3 separate regions of the Homo sapiens genome follow, and all the other regions are reported to be linked to region 2. Evidence: microRNA targets listed by miRTarBase, many of them from high-throughput screens and not tested one by one. Region 2 holds a microRNA gene; each other region holds the end of a gene's coding sequence.

Region 1 (4,057 bases), not on the chromosome of region 2:
TGGCCACTTGGCTGGGGCCGAGGGAGGCGGGCAGGGTGGGGACCCGAGCCGGTGCCACGTGTGCGGCCACAGCTGCCCGGGCCCCGCCAGCCTGCGCGCGCACTACAGCTTGCACACGGGGGAGCGGCCCTACCGCTGCGCGCTCTGCCCCCGCGCCTTCAAGGCCTTGGCGCCCCTGCTCCGGCACCAGCACCGGCACGGGGTGGAGCCGGGCACCTCTCGGAGGCCTCCGGACACAGCGGCCGTTGCAGAACAGAGGCCCGGGGTGGCCCCGGAGAGGGCGGAGGTGGTGATGGCGGCGGCGGCGGCGGGCGCAGCGGTGGGGAAGCCTTTTGCCTGCAGGTTCTGCGCCAAGCCCTTCCGCCGCTCCTCAGACATGCGAGACCACGAGCGCGTGCACACTGGCGAGCGGCCATACCATTGCGGCATCTGCGGCAAGGGCTTCACCCAGTCCTCGGTGCTTAGCGGCCACGCCCGCATCCACACTGGCGAGCGCCCGTTCCGCTGCACGCTCTGCGACCGCACCTTCAACAACTCCTCCAACTTCCGCAAGCACCAGCGCACCCACTTCCACGGGCCGGGGCCGGGGCTGGGAGACTCTGGAGGCCAGCTGGGCTCGTCGGCGGCTGAGGGGTCGGGGAGCGGGTGTGGGGTAGGGGACCCTGCGGAGGAGGGGCGGGGGGAGACCGCGAAGGTGAAGGTGGAGGCCGACCAGTAGGCTGCAGACCAGGGACATGGGTTAGTTAAGGCGGAGGTACGAGGCCGACCCGGGGAGGGGGACGGGGTGGGGAAACGGAGGCAGGGGACAGAAGAGGGGAGATTGGGGGAGAGATGACAGCTGCAGGGATGGTTGTGAGCCGCTAGTGATGGAGAGCAGAGGGAGAGGGCCAGGCTCCAGACTCCCACACGCCCACACAGCACCTCTGCCAGGCCTAGGAGAGGACAGGTGCAGCTCTTGCAGCTCTGCGGGTGTGCGGCCAAAGGCAAGGCCCACGGGCTGGATGTCACTTCCCCGACTGTCTCTTGGTTGGCTTGTCCTTGTGCAAGACCCAGCCTGTCACGACAGAGCCTGGGCACTTCAGAGGAGGAGCCAGGATCGAATGGAAGGGGGGAATTGGGGTCCACCATAGTCTTCTGCTCTGGTCCTCCACGGGTGGACCAGGATGGAGTCTCCTGCCTACCTCACTGCATTGCACTGGACCTGGGATGCCTATCCACCCTCTGGCAGAAGACACTCACCAGGTTATCTGTGAAGAGACTCTGGGATCCCATCACCTCAAAGCCAGAGGGTCCCCAAGTCACCGCTGAGAGCACTTGAGCCTCAAGGATGTAAGCCTGACCATAGGATCTTGACTCCAACAGCGGCAACCCCCACCCCCATTGTGGTCCGTCCTTAACCCATCCACTCTTCTTCGGAGGCAACTGAGAACACATAAAGCAAGCAGCTACCTAGCATCCCCCTCCTAAAGCTTTAGACTCAGAGCCCAGGGTCCCCCACAAGCCTCAAGGTAGCCTCAGGTTTCTCTAATTTCCTCCACTCCCAGTTCGAAGCAAACAGCTTACTGCCTAGTCCCCGCCAATCCCAAGGGCGGGCTGGCTGATGGCAGCATGGTGGGCTGGCCTGGGTGTGGAGTGAAAGAGTCACTGTGGTGGGGGCGAGAGGAGGACTTGGGAGCTGGAGGTGTGACACCTTCAGTTCTGTTCCTATTAAAGGACCTTCTGAAGGGCTTCTCTGTCGGTCTTGTATTCGGATTGTCCGCTTTGGGGAGTTGGGGGAGGAGGGGCCTCACCATGGTTTTGCCACCAGCAGTCAGTTGCATCATCTCTTCCTCCAAGCTTCTGTTTCCCCATCATCAGAATGGGGGGTGAGTAGGCCCCACTGTGGTTACGTGTTATGTGGTTCAGCTGTAGGAGAGGGGGGTCAGGGAAGTTTGGCAAAAGCACACTCAACATGCTTTGCATGCTTGTTGAGTGAGAGCCTCTGATTTGCACACCTTTCTGTTCACCCAGTGGGCCCCATGAGATAACTCACAGGCAACTCACAATGTGAACAGAACTCATTCCATTTTCCTCAAAGAAACCTCCATGCTTCTGATGTCATTGGCACCACCACCCAAGCTGGATACCTGGGCAGGTTTAAACCTTCTTCATCCTCATTCTTATGTCCAGTCCCTTATCAGTTTCCCTCAGTTGAGCCAGTTAATATCTTTGGAACTGGAACGTGTTTTCGGCATCACTACACTTGTAGACCAACAGTGGTCTCACACACAGACAACTGCACAGCAGTCCAGTGCCTGCATTTTTTTTTTTTTTTTTTTTTTTTTTTTTTTTTTTTTTTTTTTTTGAGATGGAGTTTTGCTCTTGTTGCCCAGGCTGGAGTCCAATGGCACAATCTCTGCTCACTGCAACCTCTGCCTCCTGGATTCAAGCACTTCTGCCTCAGCCTCCTGAGTAGCTAGGATTACAGGTGGGCGCCATCACGCTCAGTTCATTTTTGTATTTTTAGTAGAGATGGGGTTTCATCATGTTGGCCAGGCTGGTCTCAAATTCCTTACCTCAGGTGATCTACTCGCCTCGGCCTCCCAAAGTGTTGGGATTACAGGCGTGAGCCACTGCACCCGGCCACCTGCCCTCTTCATTCTCCATATGGCATCCATGCAGATCCTTGTCACCAAGACACAGCTCCTTGTGGCTTTGAGACGATTTGGAAATGTGAATGCCTACAGGAGCTGGGTGAAAATGTAAATACACGAGCAAGACGGCCAGGTTCAAGGGGAAAATATCAGCAACATGAAATAATGGCGATTGCCACCAGGTCTCAGAATTGGTATTCAACAAATTGGAGAGTGCCTCTTCAGAAGAGGGTAATGGCTGCTCAGCTCCGGAACACAGATTGGGTTGCCACATCTTCCAGTTTCTTTCAGAAGTTCCATTAGTTCACATTATGTAAAATCTTTTGATTTCCCAATGTTGGCAGTCAAGTCAAACTTTTTAAAAAATGCACAGACTAAACAAAAATGTGTTAGTGGTCATATTCGGCCTTGCAGCTGCCAGTTTCCAGCCTCTAGCCTATAAAATCACCCAAGCCCCACAGTTTGGAATTCAAGACCCTTCAGGGTTTAGCCCCCAGGAACCCAACCTCCAGCCATACTAATCTGTCTTAAATGCTCCAGAATAGCAGGGTTTAGTTCAACACACTAAACTCTCCGCCTGGAAATCTTTGCCACTTCTTTTTTTTTTTTTTTTTCTTATTTATTTATTTTTTTGAGACAGAGCCTTGCTCTGTCGCCCAGGATGGAGTGCAGTGGCATGATCTCGGCTCACTGCAAGCTCCGCCTTCTGGGTTCATGCCATTCTCCTGCCTCAGCCTCCCGTGTAGCTGGGACTACAGGCGCCTGCCACCTGCTCCCACCACCACACCCGGCTGATTTTTTGTATTTTTAGTAGAGACAGGGTTTCACCGTGTTAGCCAGGATGGTCTGGAGCTCCTGACCTCGTGATCCACCTGCCTCGGCCTCCCAAAGTGCTAGGATTACAGGCATGAGCCACCGTGCCCGGCCTCTTTGCCACTTCTTTACCTGGAAAACTCCAGTTGGTTTATGTCATCGTTCAGGGATCACCTTCTCCCCAAGAAGCTTTTCTAGCCCCCCTTCCACTCTGACAGGTGACTCCTCTGTGCTCCCTCAAGCCCTAGTGATACTTCCAAGTCCCTTACACTGTGAGGCTCCATTTCCATGTTACTGCTGAACCCTGAACCCTGGGGGCACTGGCACAACGTCTGTCTCATGCTGGGTCTTCAGCATTAGAACATGGAGCCACACAGGGTAGCTGCTCTCCCATGGGTCACACAGGACTCACCCAAGCAGCGCTCTTACCTAGTTTCATCTTCAAGTTTCTTTTTTTCCTTTTTTTTTTTTTTTTTTTTTTTTGAGATGGAATCTCGCTCTTGTCGCCTAGGCCGGAGTGCAGTGGCGCAATCTCAGCTCACTGCAACCTCCACCTCCTGGGTTCAAGTGATTCTCCTGCCTCAGCCTCCCGAGTAGCTGGGATTACAGGC
Region 2 (4,065 bases):
TGCTGGGGGTCTTTGGTCTCAAGGAAGGGATGATGTTCCAGTTGAGACTCAAGAAAAGGATTCTGAGCCTCAGAGCTTTGAAGGAGCCACTTGGTCCCTGACCTTCCTAGAGGCAAATCCCGATCCCTGTCAACCCAGACACGGGCTCCCCCCTGCCCTCGTCTGGGAGCTCAGCCTTCCCGTCCTTCCACAGCCAAACCGGCCTCCGTCCGGGCCCTGCTGTTTGACATCTCCTTCCTCATGCTGTGCCATGTGGCCCAGACCTATGGTTCAGAGGTGAGAGAGGGGAGCGACCGGGACGGGGGCTCAAGGGAAGGAGGTAACCCGGAACTCTCCCCACCTCACTGCCTGCGCCCCCGCAGCCTCTCAGCCAGTTAGTTCTGTGGGCCTCAGAAACCAGGTGCCCACCCGGGCTGGAGTCCGTAGAGGCACCTTCAGCCCTATGTTCACATTGACCACTAGGTGGCAGCATTGCCCCCGTCTGGCTCCCTTAGACCAGTTCGTCCCCAGTCTTTGGGCTGGGCTGGAGCAGCAGCCTGGCGGGAAACAGTGCAGCCCCAGGTCCAGCGCTGGCAGGCGCCGCGCCCTCCCCACTCGGCTGGTGCCCCCCTTCCCCTTTCCCAGGTGATTCTGTCCGAGTCGCGCACAGGAGCTGAGGTGCCCTTCTTCGAGACCTGGATGCAGACCTGCATGCCTGAGGAGGGCAAGATCCTGAACCCTGACCACCCCTGCTTCCGCCCCGACTCCACCAAAGTGGAGTCCCTGGTGGCCCTGCTCAACAACTCCTCGGAGATGAAGCTAGTGTCAGTGGCCCGGGCGCCCACTCCAAGGGTGGCGGTGGGGGCAGGGTCAAGACCCGCTCCCTGAGCCCGTTCCTTGCTCCCCTGTGCTGACTTCTCTGCACACCCGCAGGCAGATGAAGTGGCATGAGGCCTGTCTCAGCATCTCAGCCGCCATCTTGGAAATCCTCAATGCCTGGGAGAATGGGGTCCTGGCCTTCGAGTCCATCCAGGTAGCCCCGCCTTCCCAGCAGCGTTTGCTCCCCTGAGACACAGAGCCAGCCAGTGATGACTTGTTATATTTCGTAAGGGCAAGAAGACCTTTAATCCAGGAGCTCATGTTTTGATATTGATATTTTGTGTAATCGTTGTCTTAGCTACTCCCTCTGGCCCAGGTAGCTCTGGGAAGATCAAACTTGTGGAGAGAGGTGTGGAATGTGGCCCGGGACTCCACCCGCTGCACTTAGCTGCCCGCAGAGGCTGAGAAGGTGATGTTGGCTCAAGAAAGGGAGATAGATGGTAGCCCATCACCTTTCCGTCTCCCCTAGAAAATCACTGATAACATCAAAGGGAAGGTATGCAGTCTGGCGGTGTGTGCTGTGGCTTGGCTTGTGGCCCACGTCCGGATGCTGGGGCTGGATGAGCGTGAGAAGTCGCTGCAGATGATCCGCCAGCTGGCAGGGCCACTGTTTAGTGAGAACACCCTGCAGTTCTACAATGAGAGGTCGGTAACCTGCCTTCCCTTCTCAGACCCTTCAAGTGTGTTGTGAGAAGTCAGCACATCCAATAACAAGCACCCCTCTCTTTTCTGACCTTCGCAAACACGCTACTTGATCACTCACTCACTTTCCTATTCATGCATTCACTCATCTGACTCAGCAAACATGTACTGTGTCTCTGTGGCAGAAGCGTTTATATGCCAGCACCTGCTGTGTTGTCAGAAATGCAGACCCTAAACAGGGTCTGCCCGCAGAGACTCAAGTTCTAGACAACTAGCTCCCAAAAGAACAAAGCTGTGTGACTGTCTAGGAGCTAGGAACCTGTCTGTAGATTTTACAGGCCATGCCCCACCCTCAGTTACCTCTTAGGACAGTTTCCTGCCCTGGCTCTTCAGGGGCTTGGAGGACTTCCCTGGTGACCAGTTACGTTGAGTTCATTCACCCAACCAATAAGTTGTTTGCTTTTTTTAATTGTAAAAAACACATAAGATTTGCCATCTTAGCCATGTTTAAGTGTACTGTTCAGTAGTGTTAAGTATATTCACACTGTTGTGTAACAGGTCTCCAGAACTTTCTTGCATCTCTGAAACTCCATACCCACTGAACAACAGCTTCCTATTTTCCCCTCCCTCCAGCTCCTGGTAACTACCATTTTACTTTGTGTGTCTAGGAATTTGACTACTTTATACTTTTTGTTGTTGTTGTTGTTGAGACAAGGTCTTACCCTTGCCCAGATCAGAGTGAGTCTCACTGCAACCTCAAATTCCTGGGCTCAAGTGATCCTCTCGCCTCAGCCTCCCGAGTAGCTGGGACTGCAGGCCCACAGCCGGCTAATTTTTCTAGTCTTTGTAGAGACAGGGTCTCACTATATTGCCAGGTCTTGAACTCCTGGCCTTGAGTGATCCTCTCACCGTGGTCTCCCAAAGTGCTGGGATTACAGGCGTGACCCACCGTGCCCTGCTGAATTTGACTACTTTTTAGATGCCTCATTTAACTGGAATCATACAGTCCTTGCCTTTTCGTGACTCACTGACTTCACTCAGCATGGTGTCCTCAAAGCTCATCCATGTAGTAGCACGTGACAGGAATTCCTTCCTTTTTAAGGCTGAATAATACTCTGTTGTGGGCCGGGCGTGGTGGCTCACGCCTGCAATCCTAGCACTTTGGGAGGCTGAGGTGAGTGGCTCACTTGAGGTCAGGAGTTTAAGGCCAGCCTGACCAACATGGTGAAACCTTGGCCTTACTAAAAATATAAAAATGAGCAGGGAGTGGTGGCAGGCGCCTGCAATCCCAGCTACTTGGGAGGCTGAGACAGGAGAATTGCTTGAACCCAGGAAGCGGAGGTTGCAGTGAGCCGAGATCACGCCACTGCACTCCAGCCTGGGTGAAAGAGTGAGACTCTGTCTCAAAAAACAAAACAAAAACAAAAGAAACCTCTATTGTGTGGCTATACCACATCTTGATCCCTCCTCTGTCAGTGGACACTTCAGTTGCTTCCACCTTTGGGCTATAGTGAATAGTGCTGCTGTGAACATGGGTGTTTACCAGCTAATACGTTTTGGGTGTTGCCATGTCTTTATGGCAACGTTGAGGATGTCTTTATTTATTTATTTATGTACTTATTTTTGAGACGGCGTTTCGCTCTGTCACCCAGGCTGGAGTGCTGTGGCACTATCTAGGCTCACTGCAATCTCCGCCTCCTGGGTTCAAGAGATTCTCCTGCCTCAGCCTCCCGAGTAGCCGGGATTACAGGCATGTGCCACCACACCCGGCTAATTTTTGTATTTTTGGTAGAGATGGGGTTTCACCATGTTGGCCAGGCTGGTCTCGAACTCCTGATTTCAGGTGATCTTCCCGCCTCAGCCTCCTGAAGTGCTGGGATTATAGGCATGAGCCACCGCACCGGGCCTGAGGATGTCTTAATAGGGAGAAGGGGAAGCATTGAGCTGAATGAGGTTTGGACGGTCTGGAAAAGCACATCTCGTTTTCCCCTTGCCTCCTCCTTTTTTCCTTTCTTCTCTCATTTCTCCACCACCTTCCCCCCCGCCCTACCAAGTAGGGAGCTTTTGCTCTGGTGTAACCCATTCTAAGCACCCTAAATCCTATCTGGGTAAGGGGTAGTGAGAAGTCTGTGGCTCCATTGTGCAGGTGGGAAAAGTGGCTCTAAAGGTCATAGCAACTTTCCCAGAGCCACCCTGCATTCCAGGAACAGTCAGCACTCGGCCCGGGTCTGTATTCACTTCCGAAGCCTCTTTCCATGAGAAAATTCCTGGATATACACTTCTATCTGCCCAGCTACCAGGGGCCGGGAAGAGTCCTGTGGGGCAGCCCTTGGGCCTCTCCTGGAAGGAACAGTTTACTTTGGGAGGAGGCCAGGGCTGGGCGGGGACCCCCAAGCACTCAGCCTAGGGGGAAGTGATTGTGTTTATTTATGTGGCAGGTTGGCAGGGCCCAGGCCTGGGGGATGGGGGAAGTTGGAGAATAAAAGAAAATGTGAATATCTGGCTGGAATGGCCAGGGGGAGGAAAGTCCCTCCCCAGTCCCTATTTATAGGCTTTGTGTCCTGC
Region 3 (4,057 bases), not on the chromosome of region 2:
GTGAGCCGAGATCATGCCACTGTACTCCAGCCTGGGTGACAGAGTGACACTCCATCTCAAAAAAAATTTTTTTAATAACGAAATAAAAGAACAAGTAGATTTAAAACAAATCAAAGAAACAGGAAGTGAAATCAGCTCCGACCTCTCCCACCACCTGCTCTCCTCACAGTCTCCTTGCTATAAGCACCTGTTCTCAGACAAAACAGGAAAGATTCTGCTATTGATTAAGGGAGCTTATTGATCAATAAATTGATCGCAATCCTTGTATTTTAGGAGGCTGAAGCAGGAGGATTGTTTGAGACCAGGAGTTTAAGCCCAGTCTGGGCAACAAAGCAAGACCCCTGTCTATACAAAAAAAAAAAAAAATTAAAATTAGCTGGGTGTGGTGGGGGCACACCTGTAGTTCTAGTTATACAGGAGTCTGAGGACGGAGGATTTCTTGAGCTCAGGTGTTTGAGGCTTCAGTGAGCTATGATTACAACACTGCACTCCAGCCTGGGCGACAGAGTGAGACCTTGTCTCAAAAAATAAAATAAGGCCAGGCATGGTGGCTCACGCCTGTAATCTTAGCACTTTAGGGGGCTGAGGTGGGCGGATCACTTGAGGTCAGGAGTTCGAGACCAGCCTGGCCAACATGGCAAAGCCCTGTCTCTACTAAAAATACAAAAATTAGCCAGGCATGGTGGCACGTGCCTGAAATCCCAGCTATTCAGGAGGCTGAGGCAGAAGAACCAGTTAAACCTGGAAAGCAGAGGTTGCAGTGAGCCGAGATCACGCCGCTGCACTCCAGCCTGGGCAACAGAGCAAGACTCTGTCACAAAAAAAAAAAAAATAAATTGATTGGTTTGGAGAATGTCTACCCACCCTTGGATGCAATTCAGGGATTGTCCAAAGGGAATACTATGTTGAGTTATGCCTAGCTGGGAGTAGTACCAGCCCTCTAATTGGTATTTTTTGGTTGTCACATGGCCAGGGCAGGAGGGTCGGGTGGGGGTCACTCTGGCAGTTTGTGAATGTTATGGGCCAAATTGTGCCACCCCTCCCAAATGCATATGTTTAAATTCTAATTCCCAGGACCTCCTAATATGGCTGTATTTGGAGACAGGATCTTTAAAGTGGTCGTTGTAGGCCCAGCACAGTGGCTCATGCCTGTAATCCCAGCACTTTGGGGGACCAAGGTGGGCAGATTGCTTGAGCCTAGGAGTTCAAAACCAGTCTGGGCAACATGGTGAAACCCCGTTGCTACAAAAAATACAAGAATTAACCAGGCACGGTGGTGCACACCTGTAATCCCAGCTACTCAGGAGGCTGAGGCGGGAGGATGCTTAAGCCTGGGAGGTGGAAGTTGCAGTGAGCTGAGATCACACCACTGCACTCCAGCCTGAGTGACAGAGCGAGACCCTGTCTCAAAAACAAAAGAAGAGGAGGAGGAGATTAGGACCCAGACACACAGAAGGAGAACCAGGTGAAGACACAGGGAGAAGAGGATCATCTACAAGCCAAGACAGGAGGCCTCAGAAGAAATTAACCCTGCCAACACCTTGATCTTGGACATCCAGCCTCCGGAACTGTGAGAAAATGCATTCTGTTGCTGAAGCCACCCAGTCCTTTGTTATGGCAGCCCCAGCAAACTAACACACAGTAGACAAGGAACACCCAACATAGTGGCATTTTGAGAAGCACTAACATTGCAAGAGCTAATAGCCCAGGAAAGTCCACACAGAAGTAAAGTGAATTTTTATTTTTATTTATTTATTTGAGATGGAGTCTTGCTCTGTCACCCAGGCTGGAGTGCAGTGGCACAATCTCGGCTCACTGCAACCTCCGCCTCCTGGGTTCAAGCAATTCTCGTGCCTTAGTCTCCTGAGTAGCTGGGATTACAGGCACATGCCACCACGCCCAGCTAATTTTTTTGTATTTTTAGTAGAGATAGGATTTTACCATGTTGGCCAGGCTGGTCTCGAAATCCTGACCCCAGGTGATCAGCCCACCTCAGTCTCCCAGAGTGCTGGGATTACAGGCGTGAGCCACTGTGCCTGGCAAGTAAAGTGAATTATATCATCAAAGACGTTACAACCCACAGATAGCTCAAGGGCACGTGCTGGCAGATAGGTCCATCGTTGTCCTGTGTGGATATGACCAGGTTATGGCCTGCCTGGCCACACTATGTAGGGGTCTTGCTTTTCAGCTGGTATGCCTTTCTAGAAGTTCCATGGGCCAGCCAGGTGTGAGGGTGAACGCCTGTAGTCCCAGCTACTTGGGAGGCTGAGGCAGGAGGATCACTCGAGCCCAGGAGGCAGAGGGTGCAGTAAGCTATGATTGTGCCACTGCACTCCAGCCTGGGTAGTAGAATGAAACCCTATCTCAAAAAAAAAAAAAAAAAAAAAAAAGGATAGAAGTTCCACGGGCCAAGTCTTCTGGCAAAAGTCTGATTCTGCCACTTAGCTTGTGCAAACCTCACCCAAGACATTGAGAAAGTTGCTGGTCAAAAATAATTTTGATGGTTTCTGGGTTATTTGTGCTGTTTGAGACCAGGAAGGAAGCAGTGTCTGGAGAGGACGACATGGGGTGAATATAGAAGCTCTCCTGTCTTCTCCGCTGATGTTCTGTATTTTTAGGTTTGTAATTTGCAATGATGTGGGGACTACATGAGACCAGCCCACTTAATGTATTTCTGTGCGAGGCAGATCTAGAGGTCTAGCTCAAAGGGAAATTTTTCTGTCACCACTTTCAAAGCTTTTGTTTGGAAAAAAAAAAAAAAGGAAAAGATGGGGAAAGTAAAAATAAAAATAAAAATATCGGCCAGGTACGGTGACACATGCCTGTAATCCCAGCACTTTGGGAGGCCATCACGGAAGGATTGCTTGACCCCAGGAGTTTGAGACCAGCCTCGGCAACAGAGTGAGACCTCATCTCTATAAAAATAATAATAATAATTTTGAGCCAGGCACAGTGGCTCACACCTGTAATCCTCACAATTTGGGAAGCCCAAGTAGGAGGATCCATTGAGGCAAGGAGTTTGAGACTGGCCTGGGCAACATAGTGAGACTCCCTCTCTTTAAATGCTACAAAAAATTGGCCAGGCATGGTGGTGCGCATGTGTAGTCCCAGCTACTCAGGAGGCTGAGATGGGAGGATCACCTGAGCCCAGAAGTTTGAGGCTGCAGGAAAAGGAGCCCAGTCCCAGCTCTTTGTGGTTCACAGGCGCCAGGATATTTCATCCCAGGTTCAACACCAGCCCCAGGGTCCTCAGGGCTAGTATCACTTCCCAAGAGTCATGATCAGGAACTTAGTGAAGATCCTTTCAACCCCAGAAGTGGGAGACCTCCCACCACCAAGCTCTGAGCATCCTCCCAGCTCACCATCTACTAGGGCAAGCCCAAGTCCTCACTCTAGAAACAGCCTGACTTGCACCCCTGGGAACTTGCTGCATCCAGGGTGCCAATCCTGTTTGAGGCACATCTGTGTGTCCACTCACGAAGAGGCAAGGCCGTCCACGAAAGGGCAGGAGATTCTCATCTCAAAGAGACACTCAGATATGGACCCCCAGCCTCGGCCCTGGGCTTCAACAGGAACATTTCCGCTCACAAATCCAATACGTAGTTTTGTAGCAAGAGAGATCATTCCAGGTGCCACCTTTGTTCATGGTAGCACAGTCCTCATCGTGGATGTTATTGGGTTCCTCTGGCTCCCAGAAGCTGGATGGAGGAAAAAGTGGGCAGAGGGACAGGGATCTTTAGGGTGGTGAAACTCTTCTGTATAATACTGTAATGATGAATACCTGGCACTACGCATTTGGCAAAACCCATATTAGGCCGTGTGTGGAGCCTTACACCTGTAAGCCGGGCACAGTGAGCCACCGTGCCTGGCCCTTAATCAATTTCTGGTTTTGGGGGGTTTTTTGTTTTGTTTTGTTTTGTTTTGGAGACAGAGTCTCACTCTGTCGCTGAGGCTGGAGTGCAGTGGCGTGATCTCGGCTCACTGCAACCTCTGTCTCCTGGGTTCAAGCAATTCTCCTGCCTCAGCCTCCCAAGTAGCTGGGATTACAGGTGTCCAC

The links. The annotated mature microRNA hsa-miR-6884-3p reads CCCAUCACCUUUCCGUCUCCCCU and lies in region 2 at 1,303-1,325, shown strand. An mRNA with a match to its seed (bases 2 to 7 or 8) in the 3' UTR can be bound and repressed. Matches are read on the target gene's strand: a 7mer-m8 pairs with bases 2 to 8, a 7mer-A1 pairs with bases 2 to 7 and ends in A, and an 8mer does both.
Region 1: miRTarBase lists ZNF784 as a target of hsa-miR-6884-3p. Seed matches in the 3' UTR shown: 8mer at 864-871.
Region 3: miRTarBase lists CLEC17A as a target of hsa-miR-6884-3p. Seed matches in the 3' UTR shown: 7mer-m8 at 2,847-2,853.

Annotation. Positions count from the first base shown.
Region 1 is chr19:55,618,412-55,622,468 of GRCh38, reverse strand. It overlaps ZNF784 (zinc finger protein 784), which reads left to right. Exons shown (of 2, transcript NM_203374.2): 2 at 1-1,728. The coding sequence ends at 718. Among named protein-coding and RNA genes, the nearest start is that of ZNF784, 4.1 kb to the left of the region's middle.
Region 2 is chr17:40,023,594-40,027,658 of GRCh38, reverse strand. MIR6884 (microRNA 6884) reads left to right here and starts at 1,250; the gene lies at 1,250-1,327. It overlaps MED24 (mediator complex subunit 24), which reads left to right. Exons shown (of 26, transcript NM_014815.4): 16 at 194-276; 17 at 625-803; 18 at 913-1,012; 19 at 1,328-1,503. SNORD124 (small nucleolar RNA, C/D box 124) reads left to right here and starts at 14; the gene lies at 14-117. RefSeq lists an enhancer at 102-1,012.
Region 3 is chr19:14,609,705-14,613,761 of GRCh38, reverse strand. It overlaps CLEC17A (C-type lectin domain containing 17A), which reads right to left. Exons shown (of 14, transcript NM_001204118.2): 14 at 1,727-3,698. The coding sequence ends at 3,566. It also overlaps a transcript of ADGRE3 not described here. Among named protein-coding and RNA genes, the nearest start is that of SNORA104, 10 kb to the left of the region's middle.